2 separate regions of the Homo sapiens genome follow, and region 1 is linked to region 2. The links come from fine-mapping of genetic effects on gene expression. Tissue or cell type: whole blood. Region 2 holds a variant in brackets; the other region holds the start of a gene. All regions are shown on one strand. Distances are from middle to middle.

Region 1 (10,161 bases), 53 kb before region 2:
TAATAATAACTTTGAGAAAATCATCTCCCATATATAAATATTAATTTAAATTTGACTTTCATGACACATGTTAATATCTCATTCAGAGAAAATATTCCTCTCATCAAAGGCATATCAAAATCCATGATGCATTACTGAAGTTTTACAAGCATTCTTTAAATATATTTTATTTATTCTTCTATCAAGCGCTACATTTACTTGGCACCTGAAAGTTCTGTTTTTCTTTTTCCAATGCTTAAAGCTAGCTGTTATCAATTTTTAAACATAGAGTAGGTAGATATTAAACATTCCCATTGTACAGAAATCAACACTGAGCCTTAGAAAAAATAAGACAGCTTTTCAAAGAAGACACTGCTAGTCATGAGAAACACAGTGGAATTCAAGTCTTCTGGTGTCAGATCCACTGCTTTTTCTATTTATTCATGCTGCCTCCCAGTGGCACTGGATTAGTTTCTCTTGGGAGATTTTTAGAACTAGGATCTTCTCTCTTGAGGACATTTAAGAATAGATACAGCAACTGTATCTGTTGAGTGATAATCCTTTTTTTAAAAAGTAACTTTTATGAAGGTTTAGATGAAGCTAAGGTTTCCTAAAATATGATACTTATTTCTGAACCAATATACACTGACAAATGTCACTCTACTACTTGCTGAATATGAACATTACATATTTGATTACATTGGCCAATTTGTTCACAGAGTATTAATCATATGAAAATAAGCCACTCAAAGCACAAACGCACCATGTTCTTAGGCTGTCCACCTATGTCAAATGAATACCTATCCATGCTTTTACACTTTCCAGAAACGAAAGGCAGTGAAGTTGCAGCGAGACACAAGATGCATTTACAATTTAAGAGACGATAATAAACTGATGACTCGAACTCCCTAAAGACCCAAACCCACCTTCTAGTCAATTTTTGTATAAAATTAAAAAATAAATGCAACAATCTTAGTATTTTAAGACTATCACCCACTTAAAAGTAAATTATGGACTGACCATTATAAAGTAACTGTAAATTAGCATGGATTTAATTCTGAAGGAAATATTTTAAAGGAAAAAGAGGGAAGAAGAAAAGGAAGGAAGGAAGGAAGGATTTCTTTAGAAGCATAACAGAAAAATCACAGAAGTATATGCCATTAGATGGGTAAGCCTGATACCTGGAATTTAACCTTTCCCTCATATTCTCCCTTAATTTCCTTACCCCAAACCCTTTTTAAATTTAATTTATTTTCTTTCAGGAAATACGGTATTTTATGCTTGAATAGTTTTTAAAGTTATTAACATCAAAGTAGCCCCTAAACCATAAAGGGAAGAGGCTTGGTGACATATTTCAACAAAATTATAAATACAGTACTCAGAGGTTGGTTGAGGGCTATGACAAAGAGAAATATTTACATAAATTGAGAAAATGGATTTTTTTTCAATCTAACATGCTTCCTTAAGGATACAACACAACCAAATTGGAGAATCAGTAACTGACAAACCTCTTTGCATATAGTGACCTCCTCTCCTTGTACTACAGGAAAACATTTCCACCTAGAGTCCTTTCACAGAATATCTAGAGACCAAACGAAATCAACCATAATGACTACCAGAGCCAGATCATAATCAGTTTTTAATTGAAGTATCAAGCCAATTAATTTGTGACAACTTCCTATCACTTCTTATTCTTGACATGAAGTTGCAGAGGACTCAAATGGTTTTCTGGTCCATGACAGCTGTGGAACATTTTAATGTTTGGTCTCTTTTAAAATCACATTTATTAGAGAGGAAAGCATCTTTAGAGATGGAGTCCTAAAACTGACTCGAGATTACAAACCAGCCTCACCAGTTTAATTAGATTAAATGTCAAGAAAGAAAACTTCCCTTATACATCATATACACAGAGTCTTAATAGCAGATCTTCCTTTGGTTTTAGAGGTGTCTTTCAGAAATACATTTGAGCCCTAAATATGTATGTCTTTGTTAATTTAATTCAACAAATAAATGATTAGTGTATATATAAGTTGTACCTATATTCAGATGAGTATCACTTTTTCACACCATAAAAATTTCTAAAATACTGTATTTTAAGAACACAAACGATCCTTTTTGGGACTTCATCAAGATATATATTCTTGCCTTCCACACAGAGCATCATCCACTATAATACATGAATGACAAACTTTATATAAATCTTCCCTGAGATAATGCTATGTGTTATTCAGCAATGAAAAACATCAATAAATTGTCCTGCTTCCATTCCCACTACAGTAAAATTATATAAAAATATTAACATATATGTACCTTAATCAAAAATAATAGATGCCTTACATAACTAAACCACTTCTGCCATCAATAGGCAATCCATTCCATTTAAATTCTTAAGGTGAAATACCTGGCAGATCTCAAAACATTTTACTGGTTTTGAACAGGAAGTACATTTTTTTTTCTTCCTCACACTCCAACTGTATTGGGAGTAACGCATGCTACTGGGTGATGGTGACAGAACCCTAAAGAACATCTCCTTCTTTTAAAATGTTAACCACTGCTTCTAATTTCTGAAAAATATTTTTTGCCCTTTCAGTATGTGGCCCAATATTTTCACCAATGATGGATCTCAGCTTCTATTCAGTATTCCTGGAATATTCCACACCCGATGGTAATTTTTGGTCTTCCTTTAGTATTATTCTAAATATTCGTCTTTGTTAAGAGCCACCTTTCCAAGACCCTGAAACTGCATTACTGAGTGTAAAATGACCACATATGGTATGCACAAACACAGCACAGCACGCTGAAAAATACATACATTACCGGCTGACAGACACGGGGGTAATCACACCAAGCAAACACAATAAGCACTCTTTCATTTATTTATTTATCTATTGCTTAGACACACTCATCAAACATATTCAGTGCCCACTGAGCCCAAGGCAGTACACAGCACAGATAATATCTGTTAGGTGGCTTCAGCAAACTGGATTATGTCAAAGTGTGAAATGTGAAGTGAATCTGACTTCATCAAATAAACTGAACTCCAAGGCCATTTCCCAGCACTCACTCCCCCACCTCAAACACACAAGCTTAACTTCGCCCTCCTTCCTCTTCTGATGCTCAGACCATGACTTCCTTCTCATCCTTCTCTTCTCTTCTCTTCTCTTCTCTCTCTCTCTCTCCCTCCCTCCCTCCAAGTATTTCAGCAGCTTTCCTCAGTTCTCTGAGCCAATCCCTCGGAAAAGGAAATCAGCAAAATGCTGAATGGGGAGACTTCACCAGCAGGTGAAGAGGAAAAGAAGAGGGTGTGGTACTCGTTTTCTCCACCACACCCCATCCCTGGAGTCTTGCACTCCAGTCTACTGCGGCTCAAAGCGGGCACAGCAGGTCCCCTAGCTCACCTCGGAGCAGCCTGGCCCAGACCAACCACCCAGCGTTCTCCGCAAAAAACTTCCCTTAAAGCAGCCAAATATTCAAGGGAGGCGGGGGAAATTGGGCATTAGTTCGAATACACATACAACAGAGCACCACGGAGCAACACTGAAAGGCACCTTTTTTAGATACAGACCCTATAGACTCTCTCTCACCCTTCACTCCCTCCCACCCTGAGTATCTGACTGAGAATTTACAGAGAACCAAGAGGCGAAAGGAGAGTGGAGGAGAAAGAGGGCATTACCTCCCGGGGCTGCCCTCAGGGTGCGGGTCAGGATCTCATCCCCGAAGTGGCTCCAGTTCAAGGCACAGCTTTCCAGAGCTCAGCCGGGTTCGGACCTGCGTCCCCGCGGCGCGGTGCGGAGCTCGGAAGCGCGCCGGGACTGCCGCTCACGTCCCCCGCCCCTGCCGCGCGGGCTCCGCCACCCCGCGAGCACGCTGGCTCTCCGCGCTCACCCCGCCGCCTCCTGGCGCCCCCACACCCACCCGCTCCGCGGCGCCCGCTGGGAGCCTCTAGCGGAGGCGAAGGGAACAGCAGGCGACCTGCGGCGCCCAGGTTCCGACGCCGGTTGCAGGGAGCCGGCCAAGCGGCAGCGTGGGCTTCGCGCGCCCCCGAGTCCGCAGGCCGGGTGCCGCCGCCGCCCCCACCTGCCCACCTGCGCCAGGCTCACCTGCCACCGCGTCCTAGTTGCGTTCACCGGTGCCCACAGCTCTCTATGGCAATTGGGGGTGGGTCTGCGGTGCTAATAAAAATTTAAAAAAAAAACCTCTCTGGTAAAAAAACGAAAACCCAAAACCCAAATCCACGCTGTATATCAACCTCCACAGAGAACCCAGTCCGAAATCGTTTTCCAATAGGTTTCAGAAAGTGTGAGGACAGGACACTCCTCTGGCTTCCTGCCTCGCAGCTGGGCAGCGCCGCACCGGCTACTCCCTGACTTGCCAGGCGGGTCGTGCGATCGCGTAGCGACGCCCGGAGAGATCCTCCTAACTTGACTTAACCCCCACCCCATCCCCAACATCTATTTTAAGTTATTGTCTCTGGCAATTCAAGCAGCAGCTTTGCTGCCTCTTACCTTGAGGCGCTGTTAATTCTCCTTCGTGTCCTTAAAATCCCAAGCCAAGGATGCGACGCACACAAGTCCAGGGGCTTTTCCTGGACTTCCCCCTCCTCAGCTCTGAAGGCTCCTCCTTTCCAAGGGATCAGGAGGGGATGGCGGTTCAAAAGCCCTCACCATAGAGGCGCCTCCAAGCCTTCGTACCAGTGGAAATGGAGACCGGGACCACCTTCCCGGCACCCGGAAGCCTCCCAGCCCCTCCTGGGCCAACTTGGCTGCCTATTCAGTTTTCTTCCGTAACCCCACAGACACGTCAGTCAATTCCCTGGCATCAGGCAGGATATTCTCAGTTGCGGCCGCTCCTCTTGCTTTCTCTCGATAATGCCCCTCCCCCCTTTCTCCCCTTAATTTGGAAAAATTTCTACTCCCTGCCCGAATTAGGTGGGGATGAGGCGGAAAGGTGTAAGAAGAGCCACTCCAAGGCACAGCTTCGGAACACCGTCTCCCTGGGCTGCTGCAGCGCGAAGGTGTCTACGCTGGGGAAACTTTCAGGGGAGGCAGCGCCGGTGCGGGGCTGGGCGGGCGGCGGGCGGCGGCGCCAGGTGAGGAGGCTTTGAGGAGGCGGCTGCAAGGCGGGACGCAGGATAGCCGGCTGGGGCTTGGCAGCCGGGCTCAGAGCTCGGGCTGCGCACACACACAGGCGCGCACACCCGCGCGCGCGCAGCTACACACGCACGCCCAGCCCTGCGCCCGCGGCCCCCGGCCAGTGGCGAGCGAAAAGTCGGGAGTCCTGAGGAGGGGTAGGGGTTCCAAGGATGCTGATGACAGAAAGAGTCAATCAATCCTCACTAGTTAGCGGATTGCCGGCAGGCAGTTCCTCGCCGCACGCCGTTAAGTCCGTTGGGCCACCTCTCCGTTCTCTGCCCTGTCTGGCATTTCAACTCCCTAGCTCTTTTCTTGAAGCCAGTTACACCCCCTCGACACCCAGCGAGAGGCCACCAGACTAAAGATGAGCCCCGTTCCCATCGCCACCCTCCAGGGGCCACCTCCGCCCCTTCTGTAGTGGAGAATTGAAGTGGCTGCAGCAGCTCTCCTGGGAGCTGAGGGGCTCCCCGAGGTCCTTCGAATAGAGGAGCCTACACATCGCTTCGTGAACATAATCCCCTCGCATCCCGTCTTTACCTGCCCACTCCCTTCGTAACATTTCCCCCAAGGAGCTCCCGAAAGTCGCTTAGATGTTTTGAAAATGAATTTCTTAGGGAATTGTAGTGCCTAGCTTTTGGAACTGGGTTAATTTAGGTGCTACGCTTATATTGTAAACTGGACGGTAGCAGGTGAACGGCTCAGCTGGAGAAAGGGGAGGGATTAGGAGTCTGGAGACCCAACCCCTTTAGCAGCCATTTCCAAGGTTTTGCACCAGGAGTAGCTGTCCGGGTCTCTGGCTAGCTCCTGTCCCAACTTCTTTTTCTTCCCTCGACGGTCGGGAGGGATCACTGGGTGCTACACCGCTGGGGCGTCCCAGGCAGGAGAGACTTCGCTCTCAGAAGCGCCCCCGTGTCATCCACAACTCCCACGAAAGGAGCTTCCCAAGAGGAGTTTGTTTTACCCGGAATGGGCTGCAGGAATTAATTGCTTACAGAGAGTAAACTTTTGCCCGTTGTTTTTTTGTTTTTTGTGCTTTTTTTAACCAAAGCTTGCATTTGTGCTCCGCGTAGTTTCTATTGCAACAGAGCGCTACTCTGCCTTTTCAACTGTGAGACAGAGGATTGCTGAGGATTTCTGCCCTCTGGGGCTTCGCGAATATCTATGGCTTCGGACCTGCTAGCGGAAAACGCAAAGTTGCCCAGCTTGGAGATGGCACCAGGTTCCTTTGCTCTGGCGCTGGATGCTCCGCTCCGCCACCCACCGCCGCCGTCTCCATCGAGAATCTCCTCAAAATCAAGGGAGTTCTTGACTGTCCCTCTCCAAATTGGAAGGCGGTTGACTTTGCCGGGAACCGAGTTCCTGAGCGGCAAACGTGGAGTCGCAGAGCGCAGAAGTGAAGATTTAATACAAAAGATGAAACTTGTAGGATGACCTCTAGCAGCGCTACTCACAGCTCTGAAATCGATCCAGAGCATTCCACAGTGAGCGTTGCGGCTCCCAGGGGCTCCGGACCGGTAACTTCAGGCGCAAGTCTGAATTTCAGGGATGAACCTGCTTTGGATTCTGTTTGAGCCGACTCAGTGCAGAGGCAGTGACAGGGGCTGTGGGTTTAGGGGTGATGGATCCATGAAGGCTGCCACTTGGAGCGAGCAGACAGTTGGCGATACCCTCCCACTAACTTGCTCCGCTGCTCCGGGCTGTTCACAGACAGACCCACGCGTAAGGATTTAGAGTGTGTATGTCCAACGCCCAGACTTAACTTCTGGTGCAATTAAGGGAAGAGCTTGAAGCTAACCCGCGCAGCTTGCCTGAAGAAGTGAATAATGAAATCGGTGATGAGGTGCTAAGGAATAAAAAGAGGCATTTTGTTTGCGTGTGTATTAGTTTGCCAGGATTGAGTTTTTAGGTTTGATGTCCTAAAATGTATCTTCGACAGTGACTCTTTTGCAGCCTTTCAAGAGGAGGATGTTCGGCAGTATTTTGGAACCTGGTATGAATCTATACATTGTCTGCGTGCCGCAATATTTGATGCCTCTTCGAGTTCTAATTCTTATTCCTAATTAATAAATGACTGTTCCTGATAATGAAGTGGGAATAAGAATTATAATAAACTATTTCCAACAAAAGGCCATCTTTAACTTATGATTTCTGATTGTATAAGCCTATCAATTACCAATAAAATATTCTGCAGACTATTAGGCATGAATTGCAGAGCTGTAATGAAGAGACTCACTTGGTTCAAGAAAATTCAGAATTTAGAGCGACTCCTCTCCAAAAAGGTTGTGACTTCAAATTCCTTTCTTGGTTGCTGTTGGTATGCAGGCCACTGTCTGCAACTGAAGTTTCTGTTTAAAGTAAACATAGGTTATTTACATATTCATTAACTTTAATACGTGAAGGGTGCCTTACAGTGGTAGGAAATGTTGTGGAAAGTCTTGTACCAGCCATGGCGAAGTCTTTTTACTTGCTTTGAGTTTTTGATGTATGCGATGTGTATGCAGTAGTGGTAATCCATAGCATAATATTCTTGACATTTAAGCACCCTCAAAAAAAATAATAAAAACCTGTAGATTTATGGATCCTGTTCAAAAAATGGAAGAGGATAAGGATCACCCTTTTCCCCCTCGCCTTTTACATTTTGCTTTTATGGGGGAAATTATTTAACAAACAAGGAGAGCAAACCTCAGGATCAGAGGATGTACCCCATTCCCGCTACCCTTAGGTCTATCTATGGAATTGAAAAGAAACTATTGAGACTCAAAGATACTGTCAGATCCAAGAATCTGATTTCACCACCAAATTAAAATAACTACAGCATTATTCCAGTGTTGTCTATGTATTTATGTTTTCTGATAATTGAATTTGAAATATATGATATCTCTTCCAATGGAAACATCTTGATCCTTTTCCCTCCTTAAGATCATTTCTCTACAAACTGCCATTTTCAGAACACCTTTTACTTCTCTAGAGCATAGCATTCAGTCTATTGGTGTACTGTCTTTTCATAGATAAAAGCTATTCTTTCTTTACTGGTATGCCTTTGCTACTGTACTGTGAGCTCTGAGAGCACGGATCTTGTCATTTACATTGTTGTTCCCCAGAATCTATACAGAATCTAGTACACAATAAAATAGATGTATATGATGATGATGATGATGATGAAAGCGACCATGTATTGAGTAATGACTTAATGACTATGTAATGTGATTTATGTACATTATATCAGTTGATCCTGTTTACAACCTGCTTACCTAAATTTTATGTCCTCAAATTACAGGGAGATTGAGGCTTATGCAAATTTACCTAAGGTGACAAATCTGTTTTGTCACAATTAAGTATGGAACCTACACAGTATCTTTCTGACTCTGAAGCCTGCACTATTCATCATTTTGCTCTGTTCAAATAGCCAGGTCCCCACATTTTCAATTATTCAAGGCTAAAAGGAATTTATATGTTGTTAATGCTAAAAAGAGGCAAATTTAAAAATGAGTTCCTTACCTCTCATGCAATCGAGTCAATATCTATTTGAGTATCAAAACACAGGACCAGTTTACTTCTCTTATTGGGTTAAAATAGGAGAGTGTCTTCTTGGCATTATTTTCATGGGAATGCCAAATGCTGAGTTATGGGTTTCCTTTCAGAGAGGGGAGTCAGGCCATTGGGAATTTTATGGATATAGAAAACTTTTTATTGTTTACTTCCATGTTGATACTCTTATGTAAAACAGAGGAGGCTATTATAAAATCTCAGTTGTGTAAGATGAATAAATTCTAGAGATCTATTGTACAATAATGTGCCTATAATTAACCATACTGTATTATACACTTAAAAATGTATTAAGAGGACAGATCTCATGTTGGCTAATTGCCACAATTTTAAAACTAATAAAAATAAAAGCCTCAGAACACAGACAACACTGAATACAGAATGACATAGGAACATGCCATAGAAATGTGTTATAGTTGTCAATTTCAACAGCTCATATTATAAAACATCTTTTATACCTTGGATCATTACAGTACAAATACAAAATATCCATATCATGGAAGATTAAGCTGCTATGTAAAATAATGAGGAAATTCTCCTTAATTGGTATAAAAAGGTCTCCATGATATTTTTAGGTGAAAATTGCAAGGTGAAGCAAGGTGTTGTCTCCAAAAATTAATAAAATTGGTTGGGGTCATGGTGTAAGTGGGCAGATGGTATCAAAGGTAGAGGTTAGACTTTTTATGTTCTTTTGATTTTGGAACCGTGTGTAAGTTTTACCTTATAAAATAAAAGAGTGCCTTTGAGGGGTTGCATGGAAAGAAAAGTATAACAGATGTATCTCCGCCTTTTACTTAAAAAAGATGTTTGTTGCTGTTGTTGTTGTTGTTTTTAAAAAGGGTAGGTGAAAGTTGTGAAATAACCTGGCCTGCAATACATTTGCTCATTTACTCCTGCCAGGGAGAGACCTTGAGGGAAAGAAGCAAAAAGGGGTTTCTTAGTTCAGACTACTGTAACAAAATACCACCGCATGGGTAGCTTAAATAGTAGGAATGTATTTCTCACAGTTCTGGAGTTCTGTGAGAAACATTTTTCACAGTTCTTGGAAGGCCAAGATTAAGATGCTAGCCAATTTGGTTCTTGGTGATGGCTCTTTTCCTAGCCTGCATACAGCTGCCTTCTAACTATGTCCTCACATGGCCTTTTCTCAGTGTGTGTTGGGGGGAAGAGAGAAAAAGAAACAGAGACATTTCAGCCACAGTTTATATAGCAACTAATCCTATCATGAAGGTCCCACTCACATGACCTGTCTAACCCTAATTACCTCCCAAAGGTCTCATCTCTACACACCACCACATTAGATGTTAGAGCTTCAGCACATGAATTTGGGGTGGGAAGAAGGTACAACGTTTAGTCCATAACAAGTGAGCAGGTCTAATCTCCTTGTCAATTCTACCTCCCCTGGGTAAATAGACTAATGGTATTTGCTAGAAGGAAGAGGGTTGTCTTTGGGCCCTTAGTAGGATATCTGACTAAGGATTACCTATAATAGATAGAACCAGAA
Region 2 (10,161 bases):
CATCCAGGACAATGTGTGTTCCCCCTACCACCAGTGACAGGGTCCTCATTTAACAGGACACTGATTAATCCAAAAACCTCATCTTATTGTCCACTTTATTGGGCCAGTTTTGATATCTCTGATCTCAATTTGAGTTTCTCTGAAATGGAAGCTGAGACACTATAGGGTTCAAGAGGTTTATTACGTATCAATACCTGCGAAAGGAAAGAAGAAGAACTGTTGGACAGAGGGCGAAGTTGTGATGAAGGCTCTCCAAAGCCTTGGCTAACTCAGAGGGAAACCTGGCAGTGATTCATGCCTCTCCGAGTTGTTCCTCATCAGGCTGAGGTATGTCAGTGCAGCTGAGATAGACCCTAAATGATGGGACAGATGAAAGCCATCTGCCAACTGCACTGTGTATCTGGGCAACAAATTACCTTGAAGGGAGATATAGGTGGTACAATGTCATGTATATACTGGGGTAGAAAAAGCTGTCTAAATGGCATTCTACCTTCTGTCTCATTTTTTTGTAAAGCCAGAATTAAACAAGTCCAGACAGACAAGAAACTGTCTTAATTCTAAATGACCTTAGTAAAGAAAATTCTAAAGTGTATTACCTTCTATTTCAAAACTGCGCTAAGGTAAAACTATGCTTGTTCGAAGAGAGCAACTTTTTGACAACTGGTTCAGAAAACATTTATTTTTCCTTCCTGTCAATGCAGAGAATTATAAGGCTGAATACACTGTGAGTGTAATTATCCAGACTCTTATTGTTAGGTCAACCATCCTGGCAAACTAAGCACTCTGTGTGCCCAGAGACAATCTTTCTTTTAAGAACACCACTAAGTTCCTGCCTAAAGATAGGTAACAGCCTTTCCAAGTGCAACAGAGATTTCATGGAGAAAAAAAAAATGTCAAAATAAATAAATAAATAAATAAATCTACATAAACTGGTGGGTTTTATGAATTTCCATTGTGATTTTCTTTCTACTTCTGACTTTAGTATCAAGTATTCTATATGATTGTTTCATATAAAATAAGGACTACTTTAAAAATATTTACTCCCAAGTATTTCAAAAATCATAACTCACTCTCCCTTTAGGGAGGATGTTCCAGCTAAGAATTTATACCTTGGGTTTTATAAATATAATTTCATTGATTGGGTGGCATTTTGTAATGCAGAGATATTTGTAATTTTTAATTCTTTGTGATTCCATAGCATATGCGAACATCTCTATTTTGTTCAGTTCTGCCTAAACTTTATGTTACTACTATGTGGCACTCATTACATTAAGGGCTGGGAATACAAAAATAAATAAAATATAGACAACACATTATTAGCTGCTCATGAGAATGTTATGTCCAAAATTAAACTGGGCTTGTAGTATACAAGAGAGTGTACATGGCACCCTGAGGTTCTTTCATTAGGAGACTTACATGGAAGAAGTAAGAAAACTTCATTACCTATATTTTATGCAGACCTAGATTCTGTATATTTTATACTGGTCTGTGATTCCTGTGTACATGATGAGACATGAATCTCTGTTATGTCTCAGATGTAGATCTCTAGGCTGGTCTTCTTAGGGTTCAAGTTGGCATATCAAAGGGTCTAATCAAAAAAGAACTGTGGGAGAGCCTGTAGCCAGATCCTCACTACCCTCAAGTTCTTTGGTTCTTGATAGGAAAGGAGAGAACTTTTGTGCCTAGTGTGTCTTGAACCAGAGCCTCTCTCAAAAACAAGTGTAAATGTTAATGGTATAACACAAATTCCATCATGCTTTCTACTTTTTTATATATTATGAGTTAACACATCTATTCATAGGAGTTTTGGGTCATTGATGTTACTGAATTTTCTATTTGGAGCTACACACAGATATAAAGAAATGGAAAGGAAGTCATTCATGCATCTTTTCTGGAATCAATTATCTCAGAGTCTGACTGATTAGTATCTTCAAATGCTATCACAGTTGATTGCAGAACCTTGAGAATAAAGGTATAGGTGGTGCAGGAACAATTATTGTTCTTACTGTGAACTCTGATTTTTTTTTTTCAGGTTTCAGAAGGAAGAGCCTAAAGGAAAATGTAGGTCAAGTGCTTTTATCCTGTGAAACTTTTAGAAGAGCAATCATAAAATCACAGTGACTGGCCCTGATTTTCAGTGATGGAAAAAGAAGAGCAATAGGTGAAAAAGCAATAGACAAGTATTTTTAAGTAGTATTTTAAAATATATAGCAGCAAATATAAGTTTTTTTAAAATTAGGAATATATTTGATTGATTTAGTCTAATTTGACTTTGGCTTATTAAATTTGGCTTTCTATGTTACTAATTCTGGTTACTATCATATTAATGTGTCAAAGTGGGAAAAGAAAAAACTAAAACATATGTTTGTAAGGCATCATGTTTAATGTGCTACAAGTCTCTAATTAACATACAACCCTTCACAAAACAATTCTTTCCAAGCCTGTAAATGTTTAAGAGGATAGGGCTGCTTTGCTCATTACTGTAATTATTGTAAAATCAGGTTTACTAAATTTCTTATTTATAGGTATTATATTAATTTTAAAAAATTATTTATAACAATTTAAAGTACCCTATTATCTCAAAAGCAGATCTTTCTTTTCTAAATGAATTTATATTTCAAGAATAACGTTATTTTAGTTGGGACAGTATCCATTTAGTTAATATTATAATTAAATATCTAATGAAACTTTCTATTGTATTAGAATTGGCTATGATAAATCTGTAATTCCAATACATTAAAATTGTTACAAATATGACTGGAGTATATGTGTGACCTGAAAAGGCAGGCATATCTTGTTTTATTGTGCTTCAGTTTATTGCATTTTGCAGATGCTGCATTTTTACAAATTGATGCTTTATGGCAACCCTGTGTCAAGCAAGTCTATTGTGGCCATTTTCCAACATCATGTGGTCACTTCCTGTGTCACATTTTGGTAGTTCTCACAATATTCAATCTCTTCACTATTATTATGCCTGTTACGGTCATCTGTGATAAGTGATCTTTGACATTATTATTGTAATTATTTGGGGGTGATACAAACTGGACCCACATAAGATAGTGAACTTAATAAATATTATGTATGTTCTGACTGCTCCACTGACTGGGTGTTCCCCCATCTCTCTCCCTTTCCCTATTCACTAAAACACAAGAATACTGAAATTATGCCAAATAATAAATCTACAGAGGCCTCCAGGTGTTTGAGTGAAAGGAAAATTTGCACATCTCTGATTTTAATTCAAAAGCTAGTAATAATTAAGCTTAGTGAGGAAGACATGTTGAAAGCCGAGACAGGCTGAAGGCTAAACCTCTTGAAGCAAACAGTTAGCCAAGTTGTGAATGCAAAAAAAAAAAAAAAGTTATTGAAGGAAATTAAAAATGTTACTGCAGTGAACATACAAATGATAAAAACATGATACAGTCATTGCTGGTATGGAGAGAGTTTCAGTGGTCTGCATACAAGATCAAGCCAACCACAACATGCCCTTAAACCGAAGCCTAATCCAGAGCAAGACCCTAATGCTCTTCAATTCTCTGAAGGCTGAGGGAGTTGAGGAGCCTGAAAAAGAAAAGTTTGAACTTAGCAGAGGTTGGTTCATGAGTTTAAGGAAAGAAGCTGTTGCTATAACATAAAAGTGCAAGGTGAAGCAGCAAGTGGAGATGTAGAAGCTGTATCAAGTAATCCAGAAGATCTAGCTAAAAGAACTGATGAAAGTGGCTATACTAAACAGTCTTTCAATGTAGACAAAACAGCCACAGTGGTCTATTGCAAGAAGATGCTGTCTAGGATTTTAATAACTAGACAGGAGAAGTCAGTGCCTGGTTTCAAATCTTCAAAAGACAAGCTCTCTTGCTAGGGGCTTATGCAGCTGGTGACTTTAAGTTGAAGCCAATGCTTATTGACAATTCTGAAAATCCTAGGGCCTTTAAGAATTATGCTAAATCTACAGTGCCTGTGCTCTGTAAATGAAAAAACAAAGCCAGTATGATGGCACATCTGCTTACAGCATGGTTTACTGAATATTTTAAGTCCACTGTCCATATCTATCCTTTGAAAATATTACTGCTCATTGACAATGCACCTGGTCACCCAACAGCACTAATGAAAATATACATGGAGATTAATGTTGTTTTTATGCCTGCTAACACAATATCCATTTTGTAGTTTATGGATCAAGGATTAATTTTGATTTTCTATGACTGACACTTTAAGAATACATTTTATGAGGCTATAGCTGCCATAGATAGTGACTCCTCTGATGGATCTGGCAAAGTAAATTGAAAACCTTCTGGGTAGGATTCGCCATTCCAGATGCCATGAAGAACATTCATGATTCATGAGAGGAGGTCAAAATATCAACATCATTAAAGGGTTTAAAGAAGTTGATTCCAGCCCTCATGGATAACTTTGAGAGATTCAAGACTTCAGTGGAGAAAGTAACTGCAGATAAGGTGGAAATAGCAAGAGAACTAGAATTAAAAGTGAAGTCTGAATATCTGACTGAACTGCTGCAATCTCATAATAAAACTTGGATGAGGAGTTTCTTCTTATGCTTGAGAAAAGGAAGTGGTATACTCC[TG/T]GTGAAGATGCTGTGAACATTGTTGAAACGACTTCAAAAAACTTTCAAATATTACATAAACCTTGTTGATAAAGCAGCAGCAGTGTTTGAGAATATTGACTCCAGCTCTGAAAGAAGTTCCACTGTGAATAAAAATGCTATCAAACAGCTTCACAAATGATAGGCAAATCTTTCATGAAAGAGTCAATAAGTGACACACTTCATTGTTTCATTACTTAAGAATTTGTCACAGAGACCAGAACCTTCAGCAACCACCACTCTGACCAGTCAGCAGACATCAACCTCCAGACAGGACCCTCCACGAGCAAAAACATTATGACTCACTGAAGATTAGATGATACTTAGCTTTTTTTTAGCAATATAGTATTTTAATTGAGGTACTTAAATTGTTTCTTAAATATAATGTGATTGTACATTTAATAGACTATAGCATATTATGTACATAACTTTTCTATGCACTGGGAAATCAAAAGTTCATGTGGCTCACTTTAGTGTGGTGGTCTGGAACTGAACCCACAATATCTCCCAGGTATGACAGCAGCACAAAAATTGTCGGGCTGCAGTAAATTTTTTGGCACTGACTTCAAATTTGAGCCATGTCAGGACATTTTATTTGAATTTTTGGAATGCAAAATGTTTATGAAAATGTTCATGAAAATGTTCTAGTTTGAAGTAATATATTGCATTGTAAGATTTTATTAATTGTAGTGTAATGTTTTGAAAATAGCTTGATTGGGAGAGAGGTATGTGTTGAAATTTGAGGGTATCAAATAGCTGGTATAAACGGAAATGTAAAGGGAGGGACAGAGGCTATATGAACTGGGAAGGCCAGTCATATTTGTTTTACTGATTTCATTATTTTGCCTTTAACTGGCCCAGTAGACAGATATCTGGACACACCTCTTAGAAAATTTGGTGCAATGGAGGGGAGAAAAGGCAATACAGAATAAATGGAGAAGTATTGGGAGAATCACTCTACCTTATCTCTTAGGGTCCCAACTAATTCATTAGAGAATGAAGGTGTTGGACTTGTTCAGTGGTGTTTAACTATAATGTTTCCACACAGTAGCATACCATAAACAGTTATAAAATGTATCACAAGACATTTGCTTCCTAAGTAGTGGGATAATGTTTTAAAGTGTTACGAGATTTTTTTCCTTATCAGTATTTTTCTTCTGCCATGATGATTAGTTTTTGACATAAGGACTTGCCTTACCAATGAGAAGAACAAATACTACCAAGGTCAAATAAGACGTAAGACTTAAGAACAGTTTCTACCATAAAAGAATGAGAAATATAATGTTCTTTTTATGCTGGGGGAATAGATTGCAGGGGTGGATGTGGGGAAGAGGAGAGAGAGGGAGAGAGAGAGTACCAAGTAGTTAGATACAGCATCTTAGCTAATTGATCCTCTGCCCTTCCTTGGGGTTAACTTTTGGAGAAGGAGGAATAGAAAGTACCTGACAAGATCAGATTAATACTTTCTTCTCAAGAAGAAAAAATAAAATAAAGGAGTGTTCTTAGAATTCTGCCCGTACTTCCTCCCATCAGGTATTTTGAGTGAGATAATCAATGCTTACCCTCACATTTGGTGACACATTTGCTCACCTAGGTGTCTTTAGGACTAAAATAACACAGTGTAGCAGTCTTGTAGGAACTAAGAGCCCAGAAAAATAGATAGAGATTTACTAGCATCAAGAATTACCTTCCCTACTTCTCTTCCAACTGCTCATGGCCAGTGAATTTTAATCTCAGAAGTGACTCTTAAAGCTGCTTGTCTCTGCTGAAGGAAAAGCCTTGGCCAAAAACTGTTTTGGTAGTGTTCCCAGTGCTTGGGGCTCTTCACCCAAGGATGCATCCATCTTCACTATCCTGCACATTGAGACTGTCCATTCTACAGGTACACATAGGTCAAGCTGTAATATCCATTGAGAGATCTAATCATACTACATGCAGCCTTCAGCTTCAAACCTAAAAGTACCCATCACCTTTACTAGAAACAATCATCTCTTTTATCCCTTGTAAGAAAAAAATAATGTGTGGGAAGTTTTCTTTGCTTGGAGGTGAAAGCTACAGCTACTTACAACTATATATATACATATATATATATATACACACACATATATATACGCACATATAGTTGTACATATGTATACATATACACCTATAGTTGTAAGTAGCTATAATTCATTTATTTTGATTCTTGTTTCATATTTTATGTTATAAATAAACAATGTATTGTATCTTCCTTCACACAAGTTATCAGGACTTAATTATAAACTCTACTAATAAAGATAGTATGTAAGTGGCACAGGGATAGAAAACTGGCTGATGAAATAGAACAGAAAATCAAGAAGTAAGCTTATGCATTCACATTTAGGTACAGCAGAAGTGGCCTGTCTTATCAGTAAGAAAATGTGGGAGGATTCAAAAAATGGAACAGGAAAAATGGCTATCTTGCAAAAATAAAATCATCTCCAGATAAATTAAGGACTTGAATATTAAAAACAAACTGTGAGCATCTTAGTAGAACATATTGGTGAACATATTTTAAGCACAAAAAAGCACTGACAATATTTGACAATATTAAAATTAAGAAATTTGGCTTGTCAAAAATAATCCTAAGTGAAAACATGTTATAAATGGGGAGAAGTAATCAGCAATAAACACAGCCAACGAGTACATTTTATGACGACTAGCTAAAGAAATACAAATTAGTAGATAAAAATCAACAACTCAAAGAAAAAAAATGGGGCAAATGCATGAAAAGGCATTTCACATCAGAGGAAACACACATGGCTAGTAAACATGTTATAAGATGTTTAACTTCATCCAAAGTGAGGGCAATGTAAATCAAGACTACTATGAGGTTTCACTTTAGTCACATTATATTGGCAAAAATTTAAAAAGCTTGAGTGTATGCAGTGTTGGAAGCCATATACACCTTCTATCTCTTATAAATTGCTTGCGGGGCTGTAAAATGCTACAACCACTTTCACGTTATCTTATCAGTTTAGATGTTGACATATTCTATGAACCAACCAACAATTCTATCTATAAAGCCAAGGGAAACTCAGATGCATGTATACCAGAAGACATGTACAAGAATGTTTATAGCAACACTGTTCACAACAGCAAAACCTTAGAAACAACATGTATGCTCATCAACAGGAGAGTTGATGAATATATTGCATATTTATATGATGGAATATGGAAAAACAATTTGAACAAATTATAGCAAAATTTATTATATAAAAAACATGGATAGTATATTGTGAAATGAAAAATTATCCTAAATTGTTATCCATACTAATGTATCCTTTTTAATAAAGTTAAAAACAAATAAAATAATATACTCTATTGAAACATATAAGTTAAAAAAACATAAAAAGAAAAGTAAGAGAATGATGAACTCAAGAATGCAGATAATGATTTATTTGGATGAAGGAGAAGAGGAAGCAGGTGTGATGGAGGAAGCAGAGGTGAAGGCCATAAGGCCAGAAATGAATTACAGTCAAGAACTTGACCTTTATTTTGGGTAGTATGTTCACAAATGTTTATTAAATTAACGTGAACAATCACATAACTTTCAATAACATATGCATACATACATAAAAGAAGGCCACGTGTGGATCAATTCGATTACTGTTAATCCAAGTCTAGGCACTAAGATCCTTAAACATTTTAGAAAGTAACATGTTTGCTCATGCTGGTTCTCTAAGTCTTTTAGAAAATCAAAATTAAGGGCGGTTCCAAGATGGCCGAATAGGAACAGGTCCAGTCTACAGCTCCCAGCGTGAGCGACACAGAAGATGGGTGATTTCTGCATTTCCAACTGAGGTACCGGGTTCATCCCACTGGCACTTGTTGGACAGTGGGTGCAGCACAACGAGCGTGAGCTGAAGCAGGGCGAGGCATTGCCTCACCCAGGAAGCACAAAGGGTCAGGGAATTCCCTTTCCTAGGAAAGCAAAGCTGTGACAGACAGCACCTGGAAAATTGGGTAACTCCCACCCTGATACTGTGCTTTTCCGACGGTCTTAGCAAACGGCACACCAGGAGGTAATATCCTGCGCCTGGCTCAGAGGGTCCCATGCCCACGGAGCCTCACTTATTGCTAGCACAGCAGTCTGAGATTGAACTGCAAGGCAGCAGCGAGGCTGGGGGAGGGGCGCCTGCTATTGCTGAGGCTTGAGTAGGTAAACAAAGCAGCCAGGAAGCTCAAACTGGTTGGAGCCCACCACAGCTCAAGGAGGCCTGCCTGCCTCTATAGACTCCACCTCTGGGGGCAGGGCATAGCCGAACAAAAGGCAGCAGAAACCTCTGCAGACTTAAATGTCCCTGTCTGACAGCTTTGAAGAGAGTACTGATTCTCCCAGTGTGGAGTTTCAGATCTGAGAATGGTCAGACTGCCTCCTCAAGTGGGTCCCTGACCCTCAAATAGCCTAACTGGGAGGCACCTCACAGTAGGGGCAGCCTGACACCTCACACGGCTGGGTACCCCTCTGAGACGAAACTTCCAGAGGAACGGTCAGGCAACAAAATTTGCTGTTCAGCAATATTCGCTGTTCTGCAGCCTCCACTGCTGATACCCAGGCAAACAGGGTCTGGAGTGGACCTCCAGCAAACTCCAAAAGACCTGCAGCTGAGGGTCCTGACTGTTAGAAGGAAAACTAACAAACAGAAAGGACATCCACACCAAAACCCCATCTGTACGTCACCATCATCAAAGACCAAAGGTAGATGAAACCACAAAGATGGGGAAAAAACAGAGCAGAAAAACTGAAAATTCTAAAAATCAGAGCACCTCTCCTCCTCCAAAGGAATGCAGCTCCTCACCAGCAATGGAACAAAGCTGAACGGAGAATGACTTTGATGATTTGAGAGAAGAAGGCTTCAGGCAATCAAACTACTCTGATCTAAAGGAGGAAGTTCGAACCAATCTCAAAGAAGTTAAAAACCTTCAAAAAAATTAGACAAATGGGTAACTAGAAAAACCAATGTAGAGAAGTCCTTAAATGACCTGATGGAGCTGAAAACCATGGCACGAGAACTGCACGATGAATGCACAAGCTTCAGTAGCCGATGCGATCAACTGGAAGAAAGGGTATCAGTGATGGAAGACCAAATGAATGAAATGAAGTGAGAAGAGAAGTTTAGAGAAAAAAGAATACAAAGAAATGAACAAAGCCTCCAAGAAATATGGGACTGTGTGAAAAGACCAAATCTACATCTGACTGGTGTACCTGAAAGTGACGGGGAGAATGGAACCAAGTTGGAAAACACTCTGCAGGATATTATCCAGGAGAACTTCCCCAACCTAGCAAGGCAAGCCAATATTCAAATTCAGGCAATACAGAGAACGCCACAAAGATACTCCTCGAGAAGAGAAACTCTAAGACCCATAATTGTCAGATTCACCAAAGTTGAAATGAAGGAAAAAATGTTAAGGGCAGCCAGAGAGAAAGGTCGGGTTACCCACAAAGGGAAGCCCATCAGACTAACAGCTGATCTCTTGGCAGAAACTCTACAAGCCAGAAGAGAGTGGGGGCCAATATTCAACATTCTTAAAGAAACGAATTT

Evidence for each region.
Region 1: LINGO2 starts here. The variant in region 2 is fine-mapped to the expression of LINGO2 in whole blood (TOPMed, PIP above 0.99).

What each region holds. Positions count from the first base shown.
Region 1 is chr9:29,208,438-29,218,598 of GRCh38, forward strand. It overlaps LINGO2 (leucine rich repeat and Ig domain containing 2), which reads right to left and starts at 5,164. Exons shown (of 7, transcript NM_001258282.3): 1 at 4,485-5,164. RefSeq lists a silencer at 3,755-3,804.
Region 2 is chr9:29,261,899-29,272,059 of GRCh38, forward strand. No RefSeq gene overlaps it. Among named protein-coding and RNA genes, the nearest start is that of LINGO2, 53 kb to the left of the region's middle. The variant TG/T (reference allele first, on the strand shown) is at 4,579.